Homo sapiens: one gene and its partners. The protein of the gene in region 3 purifies or fractionates together with the protein of the main gene of each other region. This does not show direct contact. Each region holds a gene or a part of one and is shown on either strand. Other genes may lie near its edges.

The links.
Region 1: the proteins of TENT5C (region 3) and MDH1 purify together in Homo sapiens (affinity purification with mass spectrometry, with the first as the bait; 2 studies listed by BioGRID). This does not show direct contact.
Region 2: the proteins of TENT5C (region 3) and PLS3 purify together in Homo sapiens (affinity purification with mass spectrometry, with the first as the bait; 2 studies listed by BioGRID). This does not show direct contact.
Region 4: the proteins of TENT5C (region 3) and ACAT1 purify together in Homo sapiens (affinity purification with mass spectrometry, with the first as the bait; 2 studies listed by BioGRID). This does not show direct contact.

What each region holds. Positions count from the first base shown.
Region 1 is NC_000002.12:63,584,493-63,591,980, forward strand, and holds the start of MDH1 (malate dehydrogenase, cytoplasmic), read left to right. Parts: upstream 1-4,470; 5' UTR 4,471-4,551; coding exon 4,552-4,554; intron 4,555-4,653; exon of another isoform or gene 4,654-4,835; coding exon of another isoform or gene 4,836-4,892; intron 4,893-7,488. Other genes in the region: WDPCP (WD repeat-containing and planar cell polarity effector protein fritz homolog), read right to left, coding at 3,705-3,779. UniProt on the Homo sapiens protein: Catalyzes the reduction of aromatic alpha-keto acids in the presence of NADH. Plays essential roles in the malate-aspartate shuttle and the tricarboxylic acid cycle, important in mitochondrial NADH supply for oxidative phosphorylation.
Region 2 is NC_000023.11:115,634,162-115,641,188, forward strand, and holds part of PLS3 (plastin-3), read left to right. Parts: intron 1-719; coding exon 720-885; intron 886-2,674; coding exon 2,675-2,817; intron 2,818-5,948; coding exon of another isoform or gene 5,949-5,975; intron 5,976-6,246; coding exon 6,247-6,342; intron 6,343-7,027. UniProt on the Homo sapiens protein: Actin-bundling protein.
Region 3 is NC_000001.11:117,623,027-117,628,895, forward strand, and holds the end of TENT5C (terminal nucleotidyltransferase 5C), read left to right. Parts: coding exon 1-1,018; 3' UTR 1,019-5,363; downstream 5,364-5,869. UniProt on the Homo sapiens protein: Catalyzes the transfer of one adenosine molecule from an ATP to an mRNA poly(A) tail bearing a 3'-OH terminal group and enhances mRNA stability and gene expression.
Region 4 is NC_000011.10:108,116,968-108,124,572, reverse strand, and holds the start of ACAT1 (acetyl-CoA acetyltransferase, mitochondrial isoform b precursor), read right to left. Parts: upstream 3,007-7,605; 5' UTR 2,967-3,006; coding exon 2,895-2,966; intron 2,778-2,894; exon of another isoform or gene 2,647-2,777; intron 1-2,646. UniProt on the Homo sapiens protein: This is one of the enzymes that catalyzes the last step of the mitochondrial beta-oxidation pathway, an aerobic process breaking down fatty acids into acetyl-CoA.

The DNA of each region.
Region 1 (7,488 bases), on a different chromosome or scaffold from region 3:
TGAAAATGAATTCATTTTCAATCAATCCAATGGATTTCAATGAATCCATGTTGGTGTGTAGCTATGTTCTATTCATTTTCAATATATTTTTACATTTTCCTATTGATGGCCATATGGGTAATTTCTAGAGCTGTGCTCTTAGAAACAGTGCTTATGAACATCTTGTACATCTCTTGATTTAAATGGGTATGTAAAGGAATGGAATTGCTACATTACGTTTCCAGATATAATGATCACTCTGTGTTATTAGCCTCATTGTATTAATAAATGAAGATTTATAGAGACCAGGAAACTTGTTCAAGGTCACACAGCTAGGTAGTAAAGTTAAGACCAATAAATTCTGCTCCTTTCACTTGAAAAAAACTCAAGGTTAGGTAGCTCATACTTCTGGAAACATGTAATTATCAAACAGAATCCTGATGAATAATGTTTTATCTTGTTTAACTAAAGTTAAAAGAGGAGGTCCTAGCAAATTATTCCACTCAATTCTACCACTTGACCACTCAAAGCAACTTGACTACGTAATGATCATGATTAAAACTTTTATCCTATTAAAATATCCTGTATTTCACCATTCCTGAAAATTCCAGTCAAATGTTATAGTTTAAAATGTGTACAAATTGTGTATGTATAAAATTGTAAGACATAGTAATAAAGTGGTTCTCATTGAGACTACAGTTTTAAATTAAATTACAAGCACTTTTATTTTTGCCATAACTAAATTTGGAATTACTACGTTTAAGATTCACTAAAGTGAATGTAATAATTATTTTTAAAATACTACATATTCATTTTAAGAAATTACTTGAGAATACTTTCAAAAATGTCCTGCATGTCACTTAAGCCAACAAATAATTTCCAAGATACCTAGCATTACACTTAAATTTTAAAAAGGGTAAAAAGCCAAAGTTTTTTTTTTCAGCTAAGGTCAACTATTTAGCTCTGCAATCTTTCCTTTAAAAAATATTTGTAATAATTTGGTCTCTGATTTATTTCACAAGTCTTAACCTTGCTTTATAAATAATCCTATTTTCAATCACACTCCATTATCTAACATGGCTGTTTACTAAATACATGATCCTATGGTAAAGTACATATTTCTAAAAATGTAGCTACTTAGACAGACAGCAATGTAAAGGCATCTTTACATTATAGTACTCTCTAAATATTACATTGTTACTTTCAACAAAAAGGAACCAGATTATAACAAAATTGTTATAAAATAGCTTAAAAGTGTAATAGAACTTCATTAAAGAAAACATTAAGATGAATGAGTTTTAACTAGATCTATAACAATTTTATATATGCTAGAGATAAAATTAATATGAGGTTAAATAATTTTCTTTTTTTTTTTTTTTTTTTGAGACAGGATCTCCCTTTGTCGCCCAGGCTGGGGTGCAGTGATGCCAGTGCAACTTCTGCTTACTGGGCTCAAGCAACCCTCCCACCTCAGCCTCTTGAGGAGCTGGGACTACAGGTGCACAACACCACACTCAGCTAATTTTTTAAAAATTTTTTGTAGAGACAAGGTCTCAGTATATTGCCCAGGCTGGTCTCAAACTCTTCGACTCAAGCAGTCCTCCGGCCTTAGCCTCTCAAAGTGCTGAGATTACAAGTGTGAGCCACCACGCCTAGCTGTGGTTAAATAATTGTATACTATAAAAAAGCATAAGATCTTGTGAGTTCCAAAGTGCCTTGGGTATCAAGAGCCAACATTCTATTTCAGAGATTTGAAACTTAATGATCCTTTAATATCTTTGCTGGATGTTGTTAGAATGGTATTTCAAACATTTTCTACAATTTGAATTAAATATTACCTTACTAAATAACGCGAGGCTGGGCAAAAAAAATGTTAAGCATAACTCCAAATATAGCATAACAGTTTAATGCTCTGTTTGTTGCCTTAACAAAAAATGAATGTCTGCAACACATTCACAAACCACCTGGAGATTCAAACTCACAGTGAAAGTGCAATGACATATTGTGCTACTTGACATTAGCTATTACCAAAGACGGTTCAAAAGGAAGAGAACACAGACAATCTTATTAGTATAATTGGAAATGTGCTGATATACCCACCTTACCAAACATCTTCTCTTGCAGTGTATTATATTACCTGAGAAAAGTAACTTACAATCAGTGCTAATATGCTCCTTAACCTGATTTACAAGGGCAACTAGCAATAAACAGAACAAGGCCCGTGAACTACCACACAGGTGACTTCAATTCTGTATATCTGGACTGGATGGGAATACGGGGGCTTACATGTTTGTGGCCTTCTTGGAGTATGGGAATGTCCTGTCCTGCTATAGGACTGCAGTGAGAATTCTGGTTATAAAAAGTCTCCCTTGTAAAATTCACTGTAAATCGAGGACAAAAATCATGAGATTGTTTTGTTATACTTTAAGTTCTAGGGTACATGTGCACAACGTGCAAGTTTGTTACATATGTACGTATACATGCCATGTTGGTGTACTGCACCCATTAACTCGTCATTTACATTAGGTAAAATCATGATATTTTTAAGGACAACAACATGGAAAAATCTTTCTGTTAGCAGCTAGTAGAAGAATTCATTTAGGAGGATAATGGAAGAAATTTTTCGTAACTGCTCAGAGTAAAAAGTAAAACTCAGAGAACCTAGGTTTGAGAATAATGCACACCTACTAATTCAGGACTAGACACATAAATTTGAGAGTTTTTGACATTAAAAGTAGCATTTGAAGTGATGCAACTTATGAATTAGCTCACTGAGGGATTTAGTATAGACAGAGAATACAGGCACCCCAATGTTAAGAGATCACAACTAAAAAAAATTTAGAAACTCCGCAGAACTGAGAACCAGTAACAAAAGAGGAAAACCAGGAAAGTATGTTGTCTGAGAGCCAAATGAATAAAGAGATACAAGGAGAGTCATTCAGGTATGATATTAATAAATGCTAAAAGTAAAGCATTACATTTCTTTCCAAAAATAGCAAATCCTCCAAACTGAAATAGAGAAAAATTGAAAGATATTACTTGGCATTCATTTATCAGTGACAGAGAAAAAACGGAAGTTCTAACAATGTTATCTAATAGAGATGTTTTATTCATTTTCATTACGTATATGCTGTGTATGCTACTCCCGAGCATCATATCTTCCTTTTAACATCCACAAGAAACAAGCTTTCAAAAAGCACAGCAATTCTCTTGGCAGCATTAATTTTAAAGAGAACCTCTTAAGTTGTTTTACCAGCTGAGACTGACTGACTAAACAACCAGTGTCTCCCCTTCAGTCGCCAGTCTTTCCTTAGAAATGCCTGTTTGGCATAACTTTAAGACTCAAGATGGTTTAAGGCGCATCCTGTTTCTTCCAAAAGGGAATGGACAAAACTCAACATTCACGGAGGGCTTAGAGCAAATTAGAACCGTATACTGTGACCTCCTGGAAGGGAGAGGCTCACCTCCTACAAAGTAAATGCTCAATAAATATTTTTGATATAACTCTGGAAGAGCTCCATTTGGGGTCGGGGGTGCACCTACTCCAGGGCACCACCCCCTCCAAAATAGCTGCATTCCCACAGCCCTCATACTCCGCTCAGAAAAGGGACCGGCGAGCTTGCAGGCATCCGCACAGCGGATAAAAGCAAAGCGGGACGGCGCACCAACCGCATTCCGGATCCTAAGGTTAAAAGAAAACCCCTTGCCCTCGGGCCAGGGCTCACCTGTCTCGGGAGTGGGGAAGAAGCGCGACTCCCGGCCGCTTTGGAGTAGGCGTCCCAGCAAAACTCTCGCCTCATCACCAGACACTACCCCGGGCAGAAGGTTCCTAGGCTAGGTCCTCGGACCCGAGAGGGAGCGACACGCTCGCTTGGTCTCTTGGGTCTCCAGGACGCCGCCGCCGCCGCCACAGTTTCCTCAGGTGCTACAAAGCAGCCAGGGTGTGCGTGCGCTCCCGCCTCGTCGCTTAGCAACCTGAGAAGCTGTCCGGTCGTCCCAACTTATCAATTCCCCCGCCCCTCCAGAGTGTCAATCGTTTTTTAAAAGATTTTGTTTCCGGGTCGATCCAGCTTTACGCAGCGGAAGGTCTCTTTACCTCCCACGTTTACCCTCATGGGAGGATGCAGTCTCAGTCACGCGCGTGGGGGTGATGTCGCTAAGGGGTGATTCTCCCCTCCCTAGAGTTACACACGCTATCTCTCCCGCCAATTGCCGGGCTCCATCAGGCAGGTCCTTTCCTCCTGAGCCCAAACCATCCGTTTGTTGTCGTCCTCCAATCACAGGGGCTCATCCTCAGGGACTACTTTGCAATCGGCGCAGAGCGCAGTGAGAAGAGCTTGAAAAAAACCTCTGGTATCGGGAAGTGTAGTTCAACACTTGAAGGAAATGCTTTGGAGATTGCGCCACAACCAGGGCAGCGTAAACTACAGTTCCCAGAGAGCGCCGCGTCGGGAGCGGAGCCTTTTCTCGCTAACACCGCTCGCCCTCTCCGAGTCAGTTCCGCGGTAGAGGTGACCTGACTCTCTGAGGCTCATTTTGCAGTTGTTGAAATTGTCCCCGCAGTTTTCAATCATGGTGAGTGTGGGCCCCGGGTTCCTGCCCACCTCTGGCCCTCGCGCCCTTGAGTGGGGTTTCTTGCACTTTAGGGACTTTTGGGAGGCAGCTGTGCAAGGCACTGTCCTTCGCGCCCTTTGGCAAGCTCGGACTCATCTTCTGGGGATTGCCGCAGTGACCCAGTAATGGGAAGGGATTGATTTCCACCTTGCGGGGTATGGGGCGCTCTTAGGAGGACTCTGGAGAAGTAGTTGTCCTGGGAGAGGAGCGATCTTAATCCTGCTGCATGACGGGAGGACAAAATGCGACGCTGCAGCTATTTTCCAAAGGACGTTACGGTGTTTGATAAGGACGATAAGGTTTGCGATGGGAGGGAAAGGTTGGGTCCTAACCCCTTTTTCTCCTCATTTGCCCACAGTGTTTATAACGGCTTTTGTCACAGGGACCTTGAAAGCAAAAAGCTGGAAAGGTAGTATTTACCAGGTGCTCCAGATTACGATCTGCGTTTGCAGCAGACGTGTTTCCGCCATATCTAATTTCTCAAAATGTTATTTGGAACCCGTTCATTGACCTTTTTTGTAATGCCAGGATATATTGAAGTGACAGCATCACTAACTAAATAACTACTGCAAATATTCTTTATTGAACTGTATATTGTGAATTCCAGAAGCACCTCTCTTAAATGTAACAGAGTAACCATTTTGTCATGGAAGACCTGGGTAACCTGCATCTCCATCGCTTGTCTCTGCTGAAAGAGAGGGGGAGGGGGAGAGTTGGTGAAGGAACTCTGGCGTAGGAATAATCTGCGTACTGCTTGAAGGTGACATTTGTCATCAAACTCAGAGAAATCGCTTCATACTATCAATACAATGGCTTGTATTTATAGTTGCGACTGTTTTTCCTACTTTATCTGCAAAATACTAAAACGGCTGGAGAATGTGGAGAAATGTTTGAATGAATTGGAAATTTCCCAGAACCTGAAAAGACACGTTTTCAAGGCAAGGGCATTACTCTCTCTGCCTGTCTAACGGGGCCAGTGGAGACAGCTACTAATTTCCAGTAGGTGTTAAACCTAGGTTTCCTAAATGTTTTGTCACATAATTAGTCATTTAAATTATGGTTTCGGTAGTTTCTGTCCTAATAACCTTAGCTAGAAAGCAGAGGTACTTATTATCTGATAACCTTGGACTTTTTGCTTTTAGAACTGAATGGGATCTTTTAAAGGTCATCTTGACGAATCTCCCCACTTCAGATCTTAAAATGGAGTTTATCGAGACCCAAAGAGAATGTGATTTGCTCCAAGAGTCTCACACTCTTGCCATTTTTCTATATTGTGTCTTACACTTACCAAGTCTTTCTGAATTTTTATTTTTATAGGGACCACCGCAGTGAGGTCTCGCAGCGGGGGAGAGACAGTGTACTCAACTCCCTGAAAACTTATTTTTACTAGCTGAGATTCCGGATGAAGTTACCAGTTCATACTGCATATACAAACTCAAATATGTTATCAGCATGTAGATTACTTGATAGCTTTATTCCTTGCCATTCAAAATACTGGAATTGTAGAATTAAAAGGGAATTTGGAGATTATATTATCTACTCTTATAATGTAGTCTGGTGAGGTCAGATAATTTTCCCAAGGTCACAGAGATTTTGGGCCCCAGATTCTTAGCTAGTTTCCCTAGCAAGGCCCCACCGTTGGAAGGTCACTGGGGTGCCAGATAACACAGAGACAGAACATGAGGAAGAATTTGTCTGGCAGTTTGCTGGAACTGACAGCAAACTCACACATGACTCAATTTCCCTGCCCCCTCAGGAGGGTGTGTGAATGGACAGAGTTAGAAAAGAGCCTTCTTCTGTAAGCTCATTCAAAGCGGAGGATTCTTTGCTTGTTGTCTGTAGGGAGTGACAGCAAAATAAACTGTATGAAGGAATCTAAATGGTACTGCTTAGTTTTTTGTGTTATAGAAATACATGTAATTTAGAAATATATATAAATTTGAAAGTGAAAAAGAAATATGTGGCTCTGTCTGTGGAATAACAGACACTTAAATTCAATCTTTATAGCTGAGAAGTTAGCACAGAGCCTGCATCTGCAGGAAAGTCATTGGTGCCCTGCTAAGAGCAAAGACGTTCCTTTTTTGGACCTTGGCACACTGCCCAGATATCTGAGCAAAGAATAGTAACCTATGTTCACACTATAACATTGTGAAAGTCAGCAGGACTCTCCCACCCTCCTGCTTTTCAACTGCAATGTTGCAGAAGAGCAGAAAGAACCATACATGGACTTTTCTTTCTCTGTTTCATCTTCAGACATTCAAACACTAAGCCTCATACTACCATTAATAAGATGGAATTACCTACCTGGGAAAGTAATTTCCCCAAAGACACAGAAGAAAACTGCTGAGGTGGAATTAACTGTTCATTAGGTGGCCACAACCCCTTCACTAAGGACTGTGATACTGTGAACATGTTTTTAAGTAGCTACTAAAATTGACTGCATTATTCTAACCATATAGGTGACCTTATGGGAAGTTAAACTTAATAGATAGTGATCTTCACTCTCTTCAGCCCCCCTTTTCTTATCCTAGTTTGCTGTTCATTGAAGTAGTATCTGTTCATACTTTATACCCTAACCTTCCTTCATTCAACAAATACTTTTTGTGGAAATGCAAATCCATATCAAAGACAGACTGTTCTCAAGAGCGCTTCATGGCCTAATACAGAGCAACAGAAATGTAAATAGAAAACCACAGGCTATTAAAGTCTTTAGAGGAAAATTCTGTGATGATATTTATAAATACTCACTACGTACTGTTCTTAGTGCTTTGTGTGTTAACTCTTTTAATCCTTAAAACTACTCTGTTTGTTAGGTAATTGCTATTATTATCTCCATTTTACTATGGGGAAATAATACAGAAAGGTTAAGTAACTTGTCCTAGAGCATGCAGTTAA
Region 2 (7,027 bases), on a different chromosome or scaffold from region 3:
TAGGCTCCCAATCAATCCTTGTAAAAACTGTTGAGTGTGGGATTGTTATCCAGATTATACAGACAGAACTGGGACTCAGAAAGGTTTCTGAGCTTGCCTGAGATTAATGTTGGAACTGAGGTTCAAATCCCATTCTAATTTCAAAGCCCCATGTTCTTTTCATTTCATAATGTGTTCAAGCACTACAGAGATAAGCAGAAGTATATAAGCTCTTAATTAACTGGCGTGCTTAAGAAATGGAGCATTTTTTTTTCTATCAAGTGAATATTAGATTATTAGCAAAATTCCCTCAGAGAAGAGCACCTCTTGGGATGTGGACATTGATAACTTCTAAAACTCTTTTGGGCATATGCAGTACTGTTGGTCTCTCACCCATTTAGGCATTTTTGGAATTATAACACTTTACTCACATGGATATATTTACTGTGGTACTCAGCCTTTTCATTTAGTGCCAGCATACTTCAAAAGGTACCAAATAAAAATACAAAGTTAACTTCTCATGAGATTCTGCAAAAGGCAATAGCAATAAGGCTGAAATTTGTCTTAGCTAGGCTTTCTAACACAAAACTCTGGAATTTGTTTTTTGTGACACATATATGGATGAAATTAATACAGGGTATTAATTTCCTCATTGAATGTTATTTTCAGTGAAGGGAGAAAGTAGACTGCTAAAAAATGGAAAGGTCAAGAAGCAAGTGTGTAATTTGGCTGTCTTGCAGGAAAACTTGAACTTGGCACTGAACTCTGCTTCTGCCATTGGGTGTCATGTTGTGAACATTGGTGCAGAAGATTTGAGGGCTGGGAAACCTCATCTGGTTTTGGGACTGCTTTGGCAGATCATTAAGATCGGTTTGTTCGCTGACATTGAATTAAGCAGGAATGAAGGTAATGGAACACAGTCATTCTGGCAGTTGTTTATTGGTTATTTTTTTCTAGTCATGCAGACTTTCGTGCTCTCACTTAATGGAGGTGATTAAATGGTGGTAACTAGAATGAACATAAGGTAATGCTATAGAGTTATTCAGGAAAATAGCCTAATTACATGACTCTCTTCTTTACTAGTAATTCACATTTGTCTGGCACTTTACAATTCATTTTGCAATAATGACACAAAAGCACAGAGAGATTAAGGAGCTTTCCTGAAGTCCTCAAACTTGATTATCTATTTTTTTCTGTTCTGCCTACACAACTTCTACCCCGTTGCCACCCTCAGCTCCACCATTTTGCACCATCTTCTTTTTTGGAGACAGGGTCTCACTCTGTCACCCAGGCTGGAGCGCAGTGGCACAATCAGCCTGGCTAACATGGTGAAACCCCGTTTCTACTAAAAATACAAAAAATTAGCCAGGCGAGGTGGCACGTGCCTGTAGTCCCAGCTTCTCCGGAGGCTGAGGCAGGAGAATTGCTTGAACCCGGAAGGCGGAGGTTGCAGTGAGCTGAGATTGTGCCATTGCACTCCAGCCTGGGCGAAAGAGTGAGACTCTGTCTCAAAAAAAAAAAAAAAAAAAGAAAGAAAGAAAAAAAAAGAGAGAAAATGTAAGATTGCAACCGGGTGTGTTGGACCATGCCTGTAATCCCAGCACTTTGGGAGGCCGAGACAGGTGGATCACTTGAGGCCAGGAGTTGGAGACCACCCTGGCTAACATGGCGGAACCCCGTCTCTACAAACAATAGAAAAGTTACCTGGGCGTGGTGGCATGTGCCTGTAGTCCCAGCTAGTCAGGAGGCTGAGGCAGGAGAATCGCTTGAACCTGGGAGGCAGAGGTTGCAGCGAGCCGAGATCATGGAGGCAGAGGTTGCAGTGAGCCGAGATCACGCCACTGCACTCCAGCCTGGTCAATAGTGCGAGACTCTCTCAAAAGAAAGAAAAGAAAAAGAAAATATAAGGATGAATTATATTTCTGTTAAAATAGGATTGAGCCTTCAAGAGTTAATTGATTAATTTTACTTAAATACAAATACCACCGTGTTTCTAGACTACTTTAATCAAAAGGTTAAGTAAAAGATTCCCAAATTGTAAACATCTTTCCCCCAAATCCCTGACTTTTTTTTTTTTTTTTTTTGAGACGGAGTCTCGCTCTGTTGCCCAGGCTGGAGTGCAGTGGTGCGATCTTAGCTCACTGCAAGCTCCACCTCCCGGGTTCACGCCATTCTCCTGCCTCAGCCTCCCAAGTAGCTGGGACTACAGGCGCCCGCCACCACGCCCGGCTAATTTTTTGAATTTTTAGTAGAGATGGGGTTTCAGCGTGTTAGCCAGGATGGTCTTGATCTCCTGACCTCGTGATCCGCCCGCCTCGGCCTCCCAAAGTGCTGGGATTACAGGCGTGAGCCACTGCACCCAGACCCAAATCCTTGACTTTAGAAGTGTTAAATAAGAACAACTTATACAAACATATGACATAATGTGAAGCTTGCATTAAGCTTAAAGGCCATAACCTCATTTGGTATTTGAAATGTGAAGAATAACAGAGAAAAGAATAAATTGTAGTATTATGTTATTATATCTGTTATATATTTATCTTTTTTAGTAGATTATGAGTATCTTGAAACTAGGAACTATGTCATAGTAGTTTTTGCACCTCTATTACTTAACAGTGTCAAAAGACTGAATGAACTTGGCATGACCATTATTGTGTCATATAATAACTGTGGGATTTTTTTTTTTTTCTTCTAGCCTTGGCTGCTTTACTCCGAGATGGTGAGACTTTGGAGGAACTTATGAAATTGTCTCCAGAAGAGCTTCTGCTTAGATGGGCAAACTTTCATTTGGAAAACTCGGGCTGGCAAAAAATTAACAACTTTAGTGCTGACATCAAGGTAACTGTTGAAAGAATCACAACATTTTGGGGGGATATAATAGCTGGAAGATTTCATCCCAGCTTAACAGAGAGAAAATCCTAACACTGTATCACCAAGCCTTGTTGTCTCTTGGCCCTGAAGGTAGATTTTAGAAGAGTAATAGAGCCAGATAAGGTACATTAGCACCTATGTTTTATTTTGTGGGAAAAGGTAAAAATATTATGCTAATTTATCATATTATAATGCTAATTTGTTATATCCTGCCTATTGGTAAACATGGAGTATTAAAGAATAGGACATGACTATTCTATTCTTAACTGCCTTTCCCAAGCCTCAGTGTACCTGTTAGTAAACACACCTAGAAGAGATAGGAAGGGCCTCATGATTTCCTCTTCACCTTTTTTATTTGGCTTCTCTCCTGTCATTTTATCCTACCTTTAGTTGTGAGTTCCTCGAGGATAGCAATGAGCTCTTATTTATGTCTGTGTATCCTACCTCAGCCCCTGCTCCAGGGCCCTCCTACTAAAGCCAACTTAAAACATAGTATGTGGCATATACAAGTCCCTCATATTTCTTGCATTGAATTGAATTTTTTTTTCACTCACTGTTTATCATGAGCAGTGGGGGAAAACTAACAATGGAGGAAGACATTTATTACATGTTGCCTTTGGCTTCTCATGCAGAGGGCCAACATTACCATAGCAAACATTGTGTGGAGTTCTCCTTAACTGCCTCAATTCTGTGTGACATCCAGATGTTGGTACACAGGGAATAAACTTAAGGATCTTCATCAGATGTCACTGACCAGCAAGGCTGTGAAAACAATACTATGTGATGATATGATTTTGTTCAGTGATGAGAGGAAGCAGTGAGTTGCCTGTACTACTGATTTCATCCATGAAAATTAAGAGTAGCCCCAAAATTATAAGACCAACTGACCCTGCCCTCTCTTTTAATTACACAATATGTTTGGCCAGGTTTGTTGTTGTTGCTGTTGTTGTTGTGACAGGGTCTCACTTCGTCACCCAGGCTGGAGTGCAGTGCTGCTAACATGGCTCACTGCAGCCTTTACCTCCCAAGCTCAAGCAATCTTCCCACTTCAGCCTCCCAAGTAGCTGGGACTACAGGTGCACACCACCAAGCCCGATTGATTTTTTTTTCTTTTTCTGAGATGGAGTCTCCCTCTGTCACTCAGGCTGGAGTGCAGTGGCACTATCTCGGCTCACTGCAACCTCCGCCTCCCAGGTTCAAGAGATTCTTCTGCCTCAGCCTCCTGAGTAGCTGGAATTACAGGCATCCACCACCACGCCTGGTTAATTTTTGTATTTTTAGGAGAGACAGGGTTTCACCATCTTGGTCAGACTGGTCTCAAACTCCTGACCTCATGATCTGCCCACCTCGGCTTCCCAAAGTGCTGGGATTACAGGCATGAGCCACTGTGCCCGGCCTGATTTTTTTATTATTTGTAGAGATGGGGTCTCACTGTGTTGCCCAGGCTGGACTCAAGCTCCTGGGCTCAAGTGATCCTCCCACCTCGGCCTCCTAAAATGCTGGGATTACAGGCATGAGCCATGGTACCTGGCCAGCCAGGTATATTTTGCTTCATGCACTAGATGCGTTCCTGAAAATCAGCAAGCCAACCATAAATGGATTTTATGTAGTGGGATATATTTTAAATGTAAAGAGAAAATCTTATTTTTGTAAATGAAGCCTGCTTTGAATTTTTTTATTTTTTATTTTTTAAATTATTTTTTGTTTATTTTTTTTTTTGAGATGGAGTCTTGCTCTGTCGCCCAGGCTGGAGTGCAGTGGCGCCATCTCGGCTCACTGCAAGCTCCACCTCCCAGGTTCACGCCATTCTCCTGCCTCAGCCTCCTGAGTAGCTAGGACTACAGGCACCCGCCACCATGCCTGGCTAATTTTTTTTGTATTTTTAGTAGACATGGGGTTTCACCGTGTTAGCCAGGATGGTCTCGATCTCCTGACCTCGTGATCTGCCTACCTCGGCCTCCCAAAGTGCTGGGATTACAGGCATGAGTCACCGCCCCCGGCCATCAATATTTTTAAAAAGGAAATAATTGTTTGGTAATGTGAAAACTAACTTCCAGTTTATCTGTATTCAAGTTCAAATTTTCACCTGTAAAGCCCTTTTCAGGGTAGTAAATACAGATTTTGCTGGGTCTGCTCTTTACTTGTTCTTCTCAAGAGCATAGGTTTATTATAAATTGTTTGTGTAGCTTTAGCAAGTAATTGGAAGTGAAAGCACTTTCGCAATTGTAGTACACTATTCCTTAAGAGGTAAATGCTATGCCCCCAAATGATAGAATCGGAGTTGGCATTTTATGAATTGCTCTGAAATAGCTTTCAATTACCTGATTTTCCCCATTCTTAGAATCATTTATGGCACCAAGTTTCAAACTCACCTGGGTAACTGGTTTAAAAGGCACCTTTCTGGGCAGCTCCCAGACATTTATATTTGGTAGCTCAGGAATTGGATTCAGTAATTCACATATTGAGTAACTTCCTCAGGGGTTAGTATGCACATAGACTATGAGAAACACTCCTTCATAGCCTGTCTGGACCTTCAAAGCCCAGTAACAGGAAACTATTAATATCGTAGCTGGAAGGTGGTCTTCACATATGGCAGGATTAAGGAATCTTGACTCAAATTCCGGTCCTCTAGCATTCCAAAGATGCAGGAATTTACTTGACACGTGTGTAAAGGTTCTTAATAAGCGTTTGTGCAAGTACAATAGTTTTCAAGCTGTGTTTTGTGGAGTTGTCCACACAACCTGAATTCATGTTGACTGTGAGCCAACCCCATTGTTTTATGTATTGGGATTCTAAGAAAACAACATTCAAGTGATTTAGTCCAGGGGTTTAAAACGAAAAGAGACCTTTGTTTTGTTAAGTACATTCAGATCATAGAGGGTTCAGTGTTATTTTAGCAACTAAAATGTTTACCATTTAATGCTTTTGTCATTTAAATTTACAATTAAATACATCTTTAACATAGCTAATCTCTTCTTCGTAGGTTGTGGTATATGCATTGTGCTTTGTAATGATATAACCTGTTTATTTTCTCTTTCTTCTATGCTTCCTGGATTTCTGCTCTCCTACTTTTTTAAATGCTTGTTTTGTCTGTCAAGCTTATTGACTTCAGTAATTCAGTGAAGGTACAGAACTGGTTATATGTTTATTAGCATTATTGTATTGATGACTTTAATAATTGCGAAGTCATGTCAAAATCCAGTTCATCCATATGCAAGACAGATATAAGGCAGATAGATGGACTTTTCTGGGGAAAACACCTGTTAAATTAAAAGGCAGAGATTTGTGCCATTTATTCTCAAAAAATCCAATGCAAATAGCCTTCCAAACATGGGACAATAGGATACATTCATTCCTTGTAACTGTGATCTCACTGACATTTTCAATTCTTTGTAGGATTCCAAAGCCTATTTCCATCTTCTCAATCAAATCGCACCAAAAGGACAAAAGGAAGGTGAACCACGGATAGATATTAACATGTCAGGTTTCAATGTAAGTATAAGTGCTCTTTTGAATTCTACAATCTTGCAAAATTATTGTCAATTTCTTATAAGTACAATAATTTTTATAATCGTATGAAGTAGAGTTGGCAATTTTAAGCATTATTTTAAAATGTATTACTGTACATGTAATTCAGAGGCCAGAAAACTAGCTTTGATTTATTTTGATTGTTAGTGAATTCCATCGTTGTTGTGGTATTGATTTATATGGATGGCATAAAATATTCAAAACAAGTATGGGGAAATAAGTAACTAGAAGCTAACCTTTTCCAAGTATTTGGATTACAACCACAGTAATAGATTTAGTGACTATATGAAAACCTTTTCCAAGTATTTGGATTATAACCACAGTAATAGATTTAGTGACTATATATTCATATTCCTGTGTTGAGAGTAATGTGATTATGTTTTACAAACTCCCAATCTATGAAATCTAATTTAGGGAATTACTCTCAGAGACCATGTTCCCTGGTTATGTCACTAATTTGTTTAGTGACATTGGACAAGTTCCTTCTCAAAATTGGATTTCACTTTGTTCATCCATAAAGTAAGGAGTTAGAGTGAACTATTTAGTCCCAAGTTTCTAGGAATCTGTGGTTTTTGTACCCATTAGATATGGAATGCATGCTACTAATTAACAAAATCCACATATCTAGCCTATTATGCCATAGGATGGA
Region 3 (5,869 bases):
GACCGTCCGCAGTCGGCTGGAGGAGGCAGGCATCAAAGTGCACGACGTCCGGCTGAATGGCTCCGCAGCTGGCCACGTTTTGGTCAAAGACAATGGCTTGGGCTGCAAAGACCTGGACCTAATCTTCCATGTGGCTCTTCCAACAGAGGCAGAATTTCAGCTGGTTAGAGATGTGGTTCTGTGTTCCCTTCTGAACTTCCTGCCAGAGGGTGTGAACAAGCTCAAAATCAGTCCAGTCACTCTGAAGGAGGCATATGTGCAGAAGCTAGTGAAGGTTTGCACGGACACTGACCGCTGGAGCCTGATCTCCCTCTCCAACAAGAACGGGAAGAACGTGGAGCTGAAGTTTGTCGACTCCATTCGGCGTCAGTTTGAGTTCAGTGTGGACTCTTTCCAAATCATCCTGGATTCTTTGCTTTTCTTCTATGACTGTTCCAATAATCCCATCTCTGAGCACTTCCACCCCACCGTGATTGGGGAGAGCATGTACGGGGACTTTGAGGAAGCTTTTGACCATCTGCAGAACAGACTGATCGCCACCAAGAACCCAGAAGAAATCAGAGGCGGGGGACTTCTCAAGTACAGCAACCTTCTTGTGCGGGACTTCAGGCCCACAGACCAGGAAGAAATCAAAACTCTAGAGCGCTACATGTGCTCCAGGTTCTTCATCGACTTCCCGGACATCCTTGAACAGCAGAGGAAGTTGGAGACTTACCTTCAAAACCACTTCGCTGAAGAAGAGAGAAGCAAGTACGACTACCTCATGATCCTTCGCAGGGTGGTGAACGAGAGCACCGTGTGTCTCATGGGGCATGAACGCAGGCAGACTCTGAACCTCATCTCCCTCCTGGCCTTGCGTGTGCTGGCGGAACAAAACATCATCCCCAGTGCCACCAACGTCACCTGTTACTACCAGCCGGCCCCTTACGTCAGTGATGGCAACTTCAGCAACTACTACGTTGCCCATCCTCCAGTCACCTACAGCCAGCCTTACCCTACCTGGCTGCCCTGTAACTAACCTTGAGACCTGAGGGTTTCCACAGTGGGAACCCCAATAGGGCTAGGGCTCTCAGGTAGGGGAGCCTCCTTCTAGATGTAGGCATTTGGCTTTTAAAGGGGAACTCAGCTCTGATTCTGCTTTTTTTTTTTTTTTTCCTTTGTGTACCCATTGGAATGGGTCTACAGTGTATCATGAGCCAACCCTCAAAGGACCCGTATTACAGTGCCACGTTGGAAAACGCTACAGGAAGCATGACCTATCCACATCTTTCCAAGATAGACACTAACATGTCATGTCCCAAACATTAGCACGTGGGGGTTGAGCTCTGTGCAGTAATCGAGATTGGGAGAATTTGGGCAGCGCGTGAGAAGTGCTAAGCTACTTGTTTTCTCACTTGAGCCCGGGTAGGCTGTGTTGGCCCTCACTTGGGATTCTCAGCAGTTACATGAAAGTTGTGCTGATAATCTCTTCTCTTGTACCAATTTTAGTCAGGCAGAAAATGGTAAACATGAGGGTGCTCTTGTGACTTAATTTTTGTTCAAGGGACTAAATTGCTTATGTTTATTCCCTGTCAGCGGAGTGGAGAATGTCATTCATCAATAAACCAAAGCCAATAGCTGGAGAATTGAGATCTGGTTGAAAGTGGTTTATGGTTTACATGCTGTACTATCCTGAGGAATTGCGAGATATTGCTGAGGGGAAAAAAAAATGACCTTTTCTTGAAATGTAACTTGAAAACAAAATAAAATGTGGAACATAATGTTTAATTAGAATTGTGGTGGTGGTAGTGGAAGGGGATAATTGTAAATAGGAAACATGAATGTTCATTTTTTTCTTTAAAGAATTCTTATTAAATGGCTCCCTGCCTTTTTTTTCTTTTTTCCTCATCAGCTCTTTCATGGCTGAATTTTGTTTTATTCTTCCTAAGACTGAGGATTGTGCTGAGTCCAGAGTCATTGTGGTAACTGACATGAGGGTCTTCCCATGTTTTAACTGGAAACCCACTTTGGTCACATTCCAAGTATGACACAGCTGTTCTTCTGGAGTACTTTAGCTATTTTTTGTTTTTGTTCTTTTCGTTTTTTTTTTTTCCAAAAATAGTGACTTCCTTCTCCAGGTGTGTTTGACAGCAACTCAATTCAGGAATTTCGGTAGAACTGAGTGACCTGTGGAACTGCTTTAGAATCTAACCTGCTGTCTTCGTGCTCTGTGTGAAGGGGAAGCTGGGGGGTTAGCATGAAGTCTGGCCTTGTGTGCATTGGAGCTTCCAAGGCACTTTGAAATCATTCCAGTATATTTGGGAAGAATTGAGTGAATGAGAATGCTCTTCCTTATTCTGGTAGATTTGACTTGTTTATAATTCTGCACTTTAGAAGAAAAACAGTGTTAATCTGTAGTTGAAAGAAAGCTTAGTAGATGAGAGAGTTCTAGGCTACTGTGGCTTTTTCCAGTAGATTTAGATGAGATTATGTGTTTTGAAATGTTTTGTGGGATCCCTTAGAAAGCATCACTTCAGGGCAGAGACACTCAATATTGCCAGCCAGCTTGGGTTCTAAAGTGATTTAATCAAATTCATGCTCCTGATCTTTTTTTTCCCCCTTCCTTTGGCTATGAAAACCCAAAGCCCGGAGTGATTGTTTTCTCCTTGCTTTAAGCAGTGAAGTTATCCTAATGCAAAAGAGCTTAGTAGAAAATGAGTGGTTTACCTTTTTTTCTAAAAGTATATTTTCAAGTTTATTCTGGAATGTGATGTCTTGGTCCTCTTAAAAGCAGATCAGCCATGACTGAAACTCAAGGCTTAGCTGGTATCTATGTTGTGCTACATTAGGTGACTAGAAGCCACTTCTTAGTGTAATCAGCTCCTGTTTCCCTGTGAGCCTTAGTTATATTTTAATTCAGTGGCTTTGAGTCAAGGCCGGTTCTAATTGAGGGGACCCAGTGTGCTTCAGTGTTAAGAGTGGGGCAATGAAGAGTGAACCCCAATGAAGAGTGATCCCAACTTTGGAAACTATCTGGTCATTCATGACCTTAAAAAGCTGCCATGGTGGTCAAATGGCATGTGTTTGCACAAAAATGACCGATGTGTTTAACCAAAGCTTTGAAATGTGATGAAGCCACCAACATAAGCACTTGCCTAACAGAAATCAGTATTTCTTCTACTTAGAAGGCTTGGGGCCCAGGGTAATGAGGCACCAGATGAAGATAAGATCTGCATCAAGGAATTAAATTTCCAGTTTGTCCTTGGGGTTCTTTCTGCTTATGTTTTTTCCCCCCCATCTGGTAATAGTCCTCTTCTGAGAATGAAAGGAGGCACAGAAGTTGCGAGAAAGACCCAGTCCCCAGTCTTTGCCACCATTGCACCATGGTTGTCTCGGAGTCCCTTCACCTGACCTTTTTAGTCAGCTCAGATCTTTTTGTAGTTTGAGAATAGACCTATTCAAGAGCTATCAGGGTTAAAAGCTGCACTGACCAAAGCTGTACTTTTAAAACACAACCCCTGGGCTAGTGATGTCTCTACTTGCTCTATGAGCCTTTTGCCAGCCTCAGAATAGGCGAGGTAACCTTGAATTTCAGGGCCCTGGAAACTCTAGCTGAAACCTGCCTTTCCTAATGCTCACACAAGCACCAGGTACCCTGAGCTTATACTGAGTCCAGTGGTTCCTATTTTATGTGTGTGTGTATGTGTGTGTGTTGAGTAACATGAAACTTGGCAGTAGCAGAGAGCACTGAAGTTCACATGCAAGTTCTAATCTAAAGTTAAGCAGTCTCTTATTTGTTTCGGGACTCTGATTTGACTCTTTTTCTGATGCTTTCGGCATGTCTGCAGCCTGTTCTCCTAGCCTGCTGCTTGGAGTCAGGTTGAGCATCAGTGAGATGAAGACAGTACCTTTTCCTCTCACATTGGCAGAATAGCACGCACTAGATGCCTGACCTTGAGCTCTAGTCTCCCCTTTAAATCTTACCTTGGCAGTAACACATTATTCCTCATTCAATAATTTCAATGCTGAAACTGAACTCTATTACTAATGCCTTCCAATCAGAGTTCCTGATGGGGATGCCTGTGGGATGGCCCACACCTGGGGGACCTGGCAGATGGGGTGAGTTGGGTAAGGAAGATGATGCTTAGTTCCTGATAGATGCTACAGATGTAGTTTGGCATTTCAGTTTTTGTCCAGTTTGATTTTCACTGGGGTTTGAGTCACAGCAAGCTGTGTATGAACTTGTGTTTTGTGGTGACACATTAATAATCAAATTGCTAAAACCCTGAATCTGCTTATTCTTCAGCTTCACCTCTGCACTAACCCCTTACCCTTATGGTACGTCAGGATTTTAACTAGTACTGCTTTGTTGACTTTGGGAAATGGTGCCACTCAAAAGCAACTTCCTAACTTGAGGAATAACTCCTTTGTAGTTTACTTTCTGGTACTGGTTGGTGCCTTGTATTGGGATACAGCTATATTCTTAGCTCAAATGTCCTCTTTTTGAGAGCAAAGTAGTTATCCAATGGTGAGACGAGACCCTGACGCTCATAGAGGCCATTCCTTCCTGGGTGTCGGACCAGGGCTCTGTGTCAGGGAAAACCTTCTGGGTGGACTTTGTAAGAATCCAGTTTCCAAGGTTAGATTCACATCCTTAATCTTGCAGAGACTAGAATTTCACAGCTCGCTTTGGAACATATTCCAATTCAACCAGTTAAAATCAGAGGACCAAGTCGTGGGGGAGGGGGGCGGTGTTGAGGAGAGGTATTTTTAAAGATCTGGCAACTTTTCAGGATTATTTGTGGAGAACTCTAAGGTTAAGATCAGGAAATAAAAGACTGTGTGTGTGTGTGTGTGTGCGTGTGTGTGTTCAAGTGCCTAAATCTTGTTTACCTATCACTTTAAAAAAATAATTGAAGTGTAAGCTAAATAAAATGCTTGGAGTTTTGCCTGGGCTAGTGAGAGTTGGTGCAAATTCTTGTGTGTGTTTGCATAGGAAGGTGAGATGACCATCTACTAAAGAGGAAGTAGCTAAATACAGATCTGTGGGTGTTTTTAAAAAAACTCAACCTATCTGGTGTTTTATTTTAATGGATAAAAATGTAATTTTTCTAAGGTAGCAACTTATTTCCAAATTAATATAGATGAAAAATAGATACCAATTAGACTAAATTGAAAGCTTTTTGTTCTATATTTGCATAGCCTTTGAAATATTTCTTAGTGCCTAGGAGGTCTGGGGATTCCTCTTTCGTGGTGGTCACTAACCTTACTTGATGCAGATAAAATCACTTGTCAATGCAAAATGTGTTAGAACTTGATAAAGCTTTGAGTTTGAGAAATAAAGGTATATTTAAAATTTAAATAAAACTTGTCATTTATGCTCATTGATTTGTTTCTTCTCAATGATGAATTTTAGGTTTTAGGAAACATTGAATAGAAATAGGAAGCTGTCAACATCAGCCTTGGATGCTTCTCTGAAGGACAGATGCTTTTTTGAGGGGGGAGGGCTGTGTGGTTACCTTGGAGACCACAAATCCCTTAATATTTGGGCTCTTTTTCAAGGTGCCCAGCTAACTTAAACTAGGCTTCGTTGTTGACCACAGCCTTTCAGCTAATACCCACGGCAGGTGTAGTCTTGCAGTTCGCCTTTGCTGGCACCTTGTTTAATTCAGTCCCTTTAGCTCCTAGCCCACTTCAACAACAACAAAGAAAACAACTTCAGCCATACATGTACAACTACTGTAGTTTCTTCACATTTTTAAAGAAGTATAGAAGTGAACAAGTGATACTTGGAGTGGTTGATAGATGTTTGAAGGGTATAAAGAGATGCTGTAGACTTTGGTTAGCAACCTTCCTCCTCATTCCTTTGATCTAATTCACAACAACCCCT
Region 4 (7,605 bases), on a different chromosome or scaffold from region 3:
GGTGTGGTGGCTCACACCTGTAATCACTTTAGGAGGCTGTGGTGGGCAGATCATCAGAGGTGGATCACCTGGTGAGCTGGTCAGGAGTTCGAGCCCATCCTGACCAACATGGTGAAAGCCCGTCCCTACTAAAAATACAAAAAGTAGCGGGTGTGGTGGCACATGCCTGTAATCCCAGCTACTCAGGAGGCTGAGGCAGGAGAACTGCTTGAACCCGGGAGGCCAAGGTTGCAGTAAGCCAAGATCGTGCCACTGCACTCCAGCCTGGGCAACAAGAGCGAAACTTGATCTCAAAAAATAAAAAAGAAAGAAAGAAATTAGCAACAGGAAGGAAGTAGCATACAGGCTGTTAGGTCAAAGGGAAGAAGCAAGGTTACCAAAGCCAAGGGGTCAGGATCCCAGCAGAAGCGGGAACCACAAGAGAGACAGACACTGCCAGATACAGACAGACAGACAAATTATTCTGGCTTCTCCCTTCCTCCTATCTTCCAATCTTCCACTGGTGCCTTCCAGTGGCTACACCCAGCCAGAAGCCAGCTGATATTGGTCAGCCTACAGTAATGCAGACAGACTAGGGGAGGGAAGATAAATGAATCTGGGAGCAAATAAGCCCAAGACTGGCACAATACAGGAATTTTTTTTTAAGTCTGAGTATTAAAAGAAGCTGAATAAAACTGGATCAAAACACAAAACAGTTTCAAGAAGGGAGTGGTCAATAGTGTCAAATATAGGATAAAGGTCAAGAAGAAAAAACTTGGGCTGAGCACAATGGCTCACACCTGTAATCCCAGCACTTTGGCAGGCCAGGAGTTCAAGACCAGCCTGGCCAACAGAACCAGACCCCGTGTCTACAAAAACTAAAATTAAAATAGATTTAAAAAAATAATTAAAAAACAAAGAAAAAGGAAATCACTGTATTTTTCAGCTTCAGTGGCAAAGAAATTTAACTGCAGAGAGTTAAGGAGAAATAGATGCAGAATACATGGGAGGTAATGAGTAAAGACCACTCCTTTGACCAGAGAGAGAAAAGTGATTAGAGCTAGAAAGGCAATGTGCTCCAATAAAGTCCATAAAGATTTGTTGACCATAAAAGAGACCTGGTAAGCAAAGGGAAAAGAGCCAATGTAATGAGAGGTCAAATTCCATTCTACAAAATAGCACAGAAAACTGGAAATCCTGTTTATAGTTCAGTAAATGACCATTTAATTCAAGTGTCCAATACAACTGCTTCCTAGAGTTCAGTAATATGAATGTCACATATCATACATTACAGCATGTACAGGCTTATTTTTTTCATGAGGAGTATTTGTGTTTCATTTTAAGATCTTTTTTTTTAAGACGGAGTCTCACTCTGTTGCCCAGGCTGGAGTGCAGTGGCATGATCTCAGCTCACTGCAACCTTCCCCTCCTCCCGGGTTCAAGCGATTCTCCTGCCTCAGCCTCCCAAGTAGCTGGGATTACAGGCGCCTGCCACCACACCCAGCTAATTTTTGTGTGTGTGTGTATTTTTAATAGAGGTGGGGCTTCACCACGTTGGCCAGGCTGGTCTTGAACTCTTGACCTCAAATGATCTACCCACCCCGGCCTCCCAAAGTGCTGGGATTACTGGCATAAGCCACCTCAACCAACCTGATTGTAAGATCTTAATTAAACCATAAATTAAGAAGGTTCTGAACTTTTTTTTTTTACATCTCTAGAGTACCTAGTTCACCTATGTCACCTAGTCAATACTGACTGAAACCCAAGATAACCTAATTACTTTCTTGTGATTTCTTCACTCATCCCATGAGACTAACAAATAGGCTAAAAACTCATCTTCCCTGGAAACCTACGCCTTGTGACTTTTCTATTATCTCAGTCACCCAGGATCAATTTTAGACTCTTTCTTTTCCCTTGGCTTCGCACCCTCACTCCCTAATTGTCAAGTCCTAGACTGGTTCTTTTACAATCTCTTGCAAAGCTCCTACCGCCAGCACCCTTGTGCAAGTAATGTTATTCTACGCCCAGACGTAAGAACTAGAGTGACCTACCATTGCAACAAAAACAAACATATCAACAATCCCTACTTAACTAGGGTCAAGTCCATACTCACAACATAACTGGATCTCCAAGCTTATTGCCCCCATCGACCTAGAAAACTCAAGCTTCACCAACCACACCCTGAAGGTCTCTACCTATTCCTGAGGCTTTGCCTGACAATCTGTGGTGCGTACTCCCTTGCTTACGCATGTGGAGAATAAATTCTTTGAGACTCTGCCCCTGCTGTGTTCCCTAAACACAACGGTCAGAAGAGCGACAGCCCTTGGAACGCCCTCAGTATGTGAGCTTTGCTCATATGTCAAGTATAATTTATTGTATTATCTGAGTAGTCATTTGTTTTCCCTGATAAATTTCAGGCTGCTCCAAAAAACATCTGTTATGATCACATGGTGCCCTCTCCCCTTGTATGCCCAATGATTATCTATTGTATTAAAAAAGAAAAGGAACCTCTCCTGACAATAACGCACACAAATATGTTTTAAAGAAAATCTCGGGAGCAGCTGCACAGGCCTGCAAAGAGACTCTCCCCGATCCCACCGCTCAGGCCGGGCCAGCGCCAATCCTGGCGGTCCTGCCCGCCCAGACACGTGCCCTTGTTTGACACACCAGTAACGCTCATTAAGATGATTACGCCGAGACCTTGGAAGTAGAAACGCGCTGTAAAAATAGGCGAGTCCCTGGGTGTTATCGGAGCACTTAGGCGGTTTTTGGACCAGAACCCGTCGCGTGACTGTCCTGGGGCCTAAGCCGCGCGCCCGGGCCGCGGGAGCCGCAACGGCCGCGGGCTGGAAGCTTCCGAGGCGGGGACTCCTCGCATCCCGGGTCTGAGTGCTGTGGGGACGAACCCCGCTCACCTGCACCAGCCTCCGGAGCAGGGGGCTGCGGCTGCGGGCGCCGCTGCGCAGAAGTGCCGCCAGCACAGCCATGGTCGCAGAGGGCTGAGTATCGGCTCCACAGGCGTAGACTAGCGGCCTCCTCCCCAACCCCGCACCCCTAGCGGCCCGGCGCGGGCACCGCCCATCCCGCTTCCTCCAATAGTCGCCTCTCAGTCGGCGGCGATTGGCCGGCAGCCAAGGGCGGGGCGGAGCCTGGCGCTGGGACACCGCAGCCTGGGCCAGGAAAGGTTGACGAGTGAAGGACGTGGATGGAGACACTGGCGCTGGGGTCAACGAGCACCTGACACGCTGCTGGCTCCCGTGTCCACCAAGTCTAACCTGCCGGGGCCGGTGGTTTATGTGTAATCCGAGATTTTTCGATTTACTGAGCATGTTTCCCTTAGGCCTACCCAGCACAAACTCATGAAAATATTTTAGGATTTTTTTTTTTTTTTTTGAGACAAGGTCTCACTCTGTCACCCAAGCTGGAGTGCAGTGACGTGACCACAGCTCACTGTAATCTCGACCATCAGGGCTCAAGCGATCCTCCCTCCCCAGCCATCCCAGTAGCTGAGACTACAGGCGAAAGCCTCCACAACCAGATAATTTTTGTATTTTTTGTGGAGACGGGGTTTCACCATGTTGGCCAGACTGGTCTTGAACTCCTGGACTCAAGTGAGCCTCCCTCCTCGGCCTCCCAAAGTGCTGGGATTACAGGCGCAGGCGACCACGCCCAGCAAATTGTTGTATTTTTTTTTTTTTGTAGAGACTAGGTCTCCCTATGTTGCCTAGGCTGGTTGCTGACTCCTGGGCTCAAGCAGACGGCCAGACTCAGCCTCTCAAAGTGCTGGGATTACAGGCGTGAGCCATCACACCCAGCCGTGAAAATATTTTGAAGCAATCAAATTCCAGGCTCAGTCCAGATACAAATATGGGTAAAAAGGCCTCAGGTGATTCCAGTCCCCAACCTTCAACCACTCCAGCTGAGACCCCAGACATCATGGAGCAGAGACAAGCCATACCCACCATGCTGTCTGAATTCATGGTCCACAGAAACGAGAGAAAACAAATGGTTGTTATTTTAGGCCATTATGTTTTGGAGTATTTTTTTTTTTTAAGATAGGGTCTCGCTCTTGTCACCCAGTCTGGAGTACAGTGGTGCAATCATATCTCACTGCAGCCTCAAACTCCTGGTCTCAGGGGATCCTCCTGTCTCTGCCTCCCAAGTAGCTAGGGGATCCTCCTGTCTCTGCTTCCCAAGTAGCTACGTAGCTAGGACTACAGGCATGCTCCACCATGCTAATTTTTTTAATTTTTATTTTATATAGAGAAGGGGTCTTGCTATGTTGCCCAGGCTGGTCTCAAACTCCTGGCCTTAAGAGATCTTCTGGCCTTGGCCTCCCAAAGCACAGATATTATAGGCATAAGCCACCTAAATAGGTCTGTTTGGGGGTAATTTTTTTTTTTGAGACAGTCTCGCACTTGTCACCCAGGCGCGATCTTGACTCACTGCAACCTCTGCCTCCTGAGTTCGCCTCAGCCTCACGAGTAGCTGGGATTACAGGCGCACGCTGCCAAGCCTGGCTAATCTTTTGTATTTTAGTAGAGACGGGTTTTCACCATGTTGCCCAGAGGCTGGTCTCAAACTCCTGAGCTCACGCAATCCGCCCCCACTAGGCCTCCCAAAGTACTGGGATTACAGGCGTGAGCCACTGCACGCGGCCAGGGTAATTTTTTAATATAGCACCCTGTCTTTAATTTCCCCATCACTCCAGGTTTGTCCCTTAAAGTCCCCTGTGATTCCTGCACCGAAGAACCTCTCTATTCAACAGCTCACCAAGGCCTACCTCCTTCCTTGGAATGTCACACTCACACCTTTCCCTTCTACCAGAGGCCAAAGACAAATATTTTTCATACTGGGCTGCTTCGAGAATTATTGAAAGGAAGTCATTACATTGTATGTCAGTGTTTAAACTTTGTGTGTGTGTGTGTGTGAGAGAGAGAGAGAGAGAGAGAAACAGATATTTCTAACTGAAAAAGTTGAATTGTTAAAGAAATGACTCAGAAAACTAAAGGTCTGGCCTCATAGAGATTACCAGTTGTGAGAGGCCAAAGCTGATGACTAGGGTATCACACAGTAAAAGATGACTGGTTAGGCTGGGCGTGGTCGCTCACGCCTGTAATCACAGCACTTTGGGAGGCCCAGGTGAGTGGATCATTTGAAGTCAGGAGTTAAAAGCAGCCTGGCCAACATAGCAAAACCCCATCTCTACTAAAAATACAAAAATTAGCTGGGCATGGTAGTGGGCACCTGTGATCCCAGCTACTCAGGAGGCTGAGGCAGGAGAATTGCTTAAACCTGGGAGGTGGAGGTTGCAGTGAACTGAGATCACACCACTGCACTCCAGCCTGGGCAACAGAATGAGACTGTGTCTCAAAAAAAGAAGAAAAAAAAAAAGACTGGTTACATAGCTATGTACATAGTTCTTAATATGAACCAGTTCTTTTACAGTTTAATTTTAATTCTCCCAAAAATCCACTGAATTAGGGAGTAGCATTATCCACATTTTCCAGAAGTTTGTCCAAGGGCACAAAGCTAGTAGTTAGTGACACAGTTGCAATTGGAATCTAGGCAGTCTGGTTGCTAGGTCTAGGCTTCTAGGCACTCACTACACTAGTTGTGTCTTAGGAGACACCTGCCCTAGGAGAAACCTAACTAGGAACATAGAAGTCAGCTGTAATTGGACAATTCTGCCATCAGAGGCACTACCAGGAAAAAGTGCCACTATGTTCATCAGGACAGCTTCTAGAGAAGTTCAGAGACATTTAGGAGCATTGAGGGGAGAAGAATAGTACATTTATTTCTGGAGCTACAGCAGGCAAGCTGCTCTTTAAAACTAAACTTCAAAAAAATAAGAGTAGCTTTATCACCAATATGAGCACCAGGCAAAAATGTAGCTAATAATTTCATTTAAGAATCTAGGACTTGGCCGGGCGCGGTGGCTCACGCCTGTAATCCCAGCACTTTAGGAGGCCAAGGCAGGCGGATCACAAGGTCAGGAGATCGAGACCATCCTAACACGGTGAAACCCTGTCTCTACTAAAAATACAAAAAATTAGCTGGGCATGGAGGGGGCCACCTGTAGTCCCAGCTACCTGGGAGGCTGAGGTAGGACAGTGGCGTGAACCCAGGAAGCGGAGCTTGCAGTGAGCCAAGATCGTGTCACTGCACTACAGCCTGGGTGACAGAGCGAGACTCCGTCTCAAAAAAAAAAAAGAAAGTGACTAGATTAACATTTCTTCTGTGAAATAGAAATGGAGTGTTGGAATGAAAATTAAATACAATTAAGAGAGAATTATTTTTGTTTGTATTTTAAAATTTATTATTATTAGTACTAGTATTTTGGTAGACACAGGTTCTCACTATGTTGCCCAGGCTGGTCTCCAACTCCTGGGCCCAAGCAATCCTCCCTCAGTCTCCCAAAGTGCTGGGATTACAGGTGTGAGCCACCACACCTGGCCAAAGAAAAAATTTAAAAACATTTTTTGCATATCTGAATTTGTGGCTTTGGATTATCATTCCTGTCATAGCAGGCAATAGTGTCTGGACAGATGTATTAATGAAGAGCTACTCAAAAAGTGGTTTATCTGGGATTTATTACATTTGTCAAGGAGATCTAGTCAATACCTCCATCTAGTGGCAAACTTGTAAGTGGAGACTTAGGTCTTGCAAAGTATTATTAAAATATTGATAAAATAAAGCCCTCTGAAATGTCCATGAGACCCAGAGTGGCTTTCTAGAAGTAGAAGTTAGTTTTAGGAATATTAGAGCAATATTTTCACAGCAGGAAACTAGTGGAAAATTAAAAACATTTAAGAAAAACTTGTGGGTATTATATTTATAATACAAAGATGTTTGATATTCATTTCCAAGTAAGTTCTTCTACAACGAACAACTTCTGTCAAACTTAGACTACTGGAATAACTCGTTGTACTACGTTAAACAGTGTCCTTCCAAAAGATATGTTTGTTTAAGGGACAGGGTCTCTGGCCAGGTGTGGTGGCTCATGCCTGTAATTCTAGCACTTTGGGAGGCCAAGGAGGGCAGATCACCTGAGGTCAGGAGTTCCAGACCAGCCCGGCTAACATGGTGAAACCCTGTCTCTAGTAAAAATACAAAAAATTAGCTGGGTGTGGTGATGGGCTTCTGTAAGCCCAGCTACTCAGGAGGCTGAGGCAAGAGAATCGCTTGAACCCAGGAGGTGGAGGTTGCAGTGAGTCGAGATCGTGCCACTGTACTCCAGCCTGGGCGACAGAGCAAAACTCTGTCTCCAAAAAAAAAAAAAAAGAGAGAGACAGAGCCTTGCTCTGTCACCCAGGCTGGAGTGCAGTGGTGCGATCATAACTCACTGCAGCCTCCTAAGCTCAAGTAATCCTCCTGCCTCAGCCTTCCAAGTAGCTAAGACTACACGTGTGTCACCATGCCCACCTAATTTTTATTTTTTGTAGAGATGGGGCACTCACATTTCCACCCACTTTCTCTTCAAGGCAATCTAGGCTTAGTCTATCATGTGCCTCAAACTTCTTCCTCTGCCCATCACCCCAATCTATTAATAAAGGCACTTCCATGTTTGTGTATATTAATATGGCAGCACCCCACTTTTCAGTACCAAAATCTGTATTTGTTTCC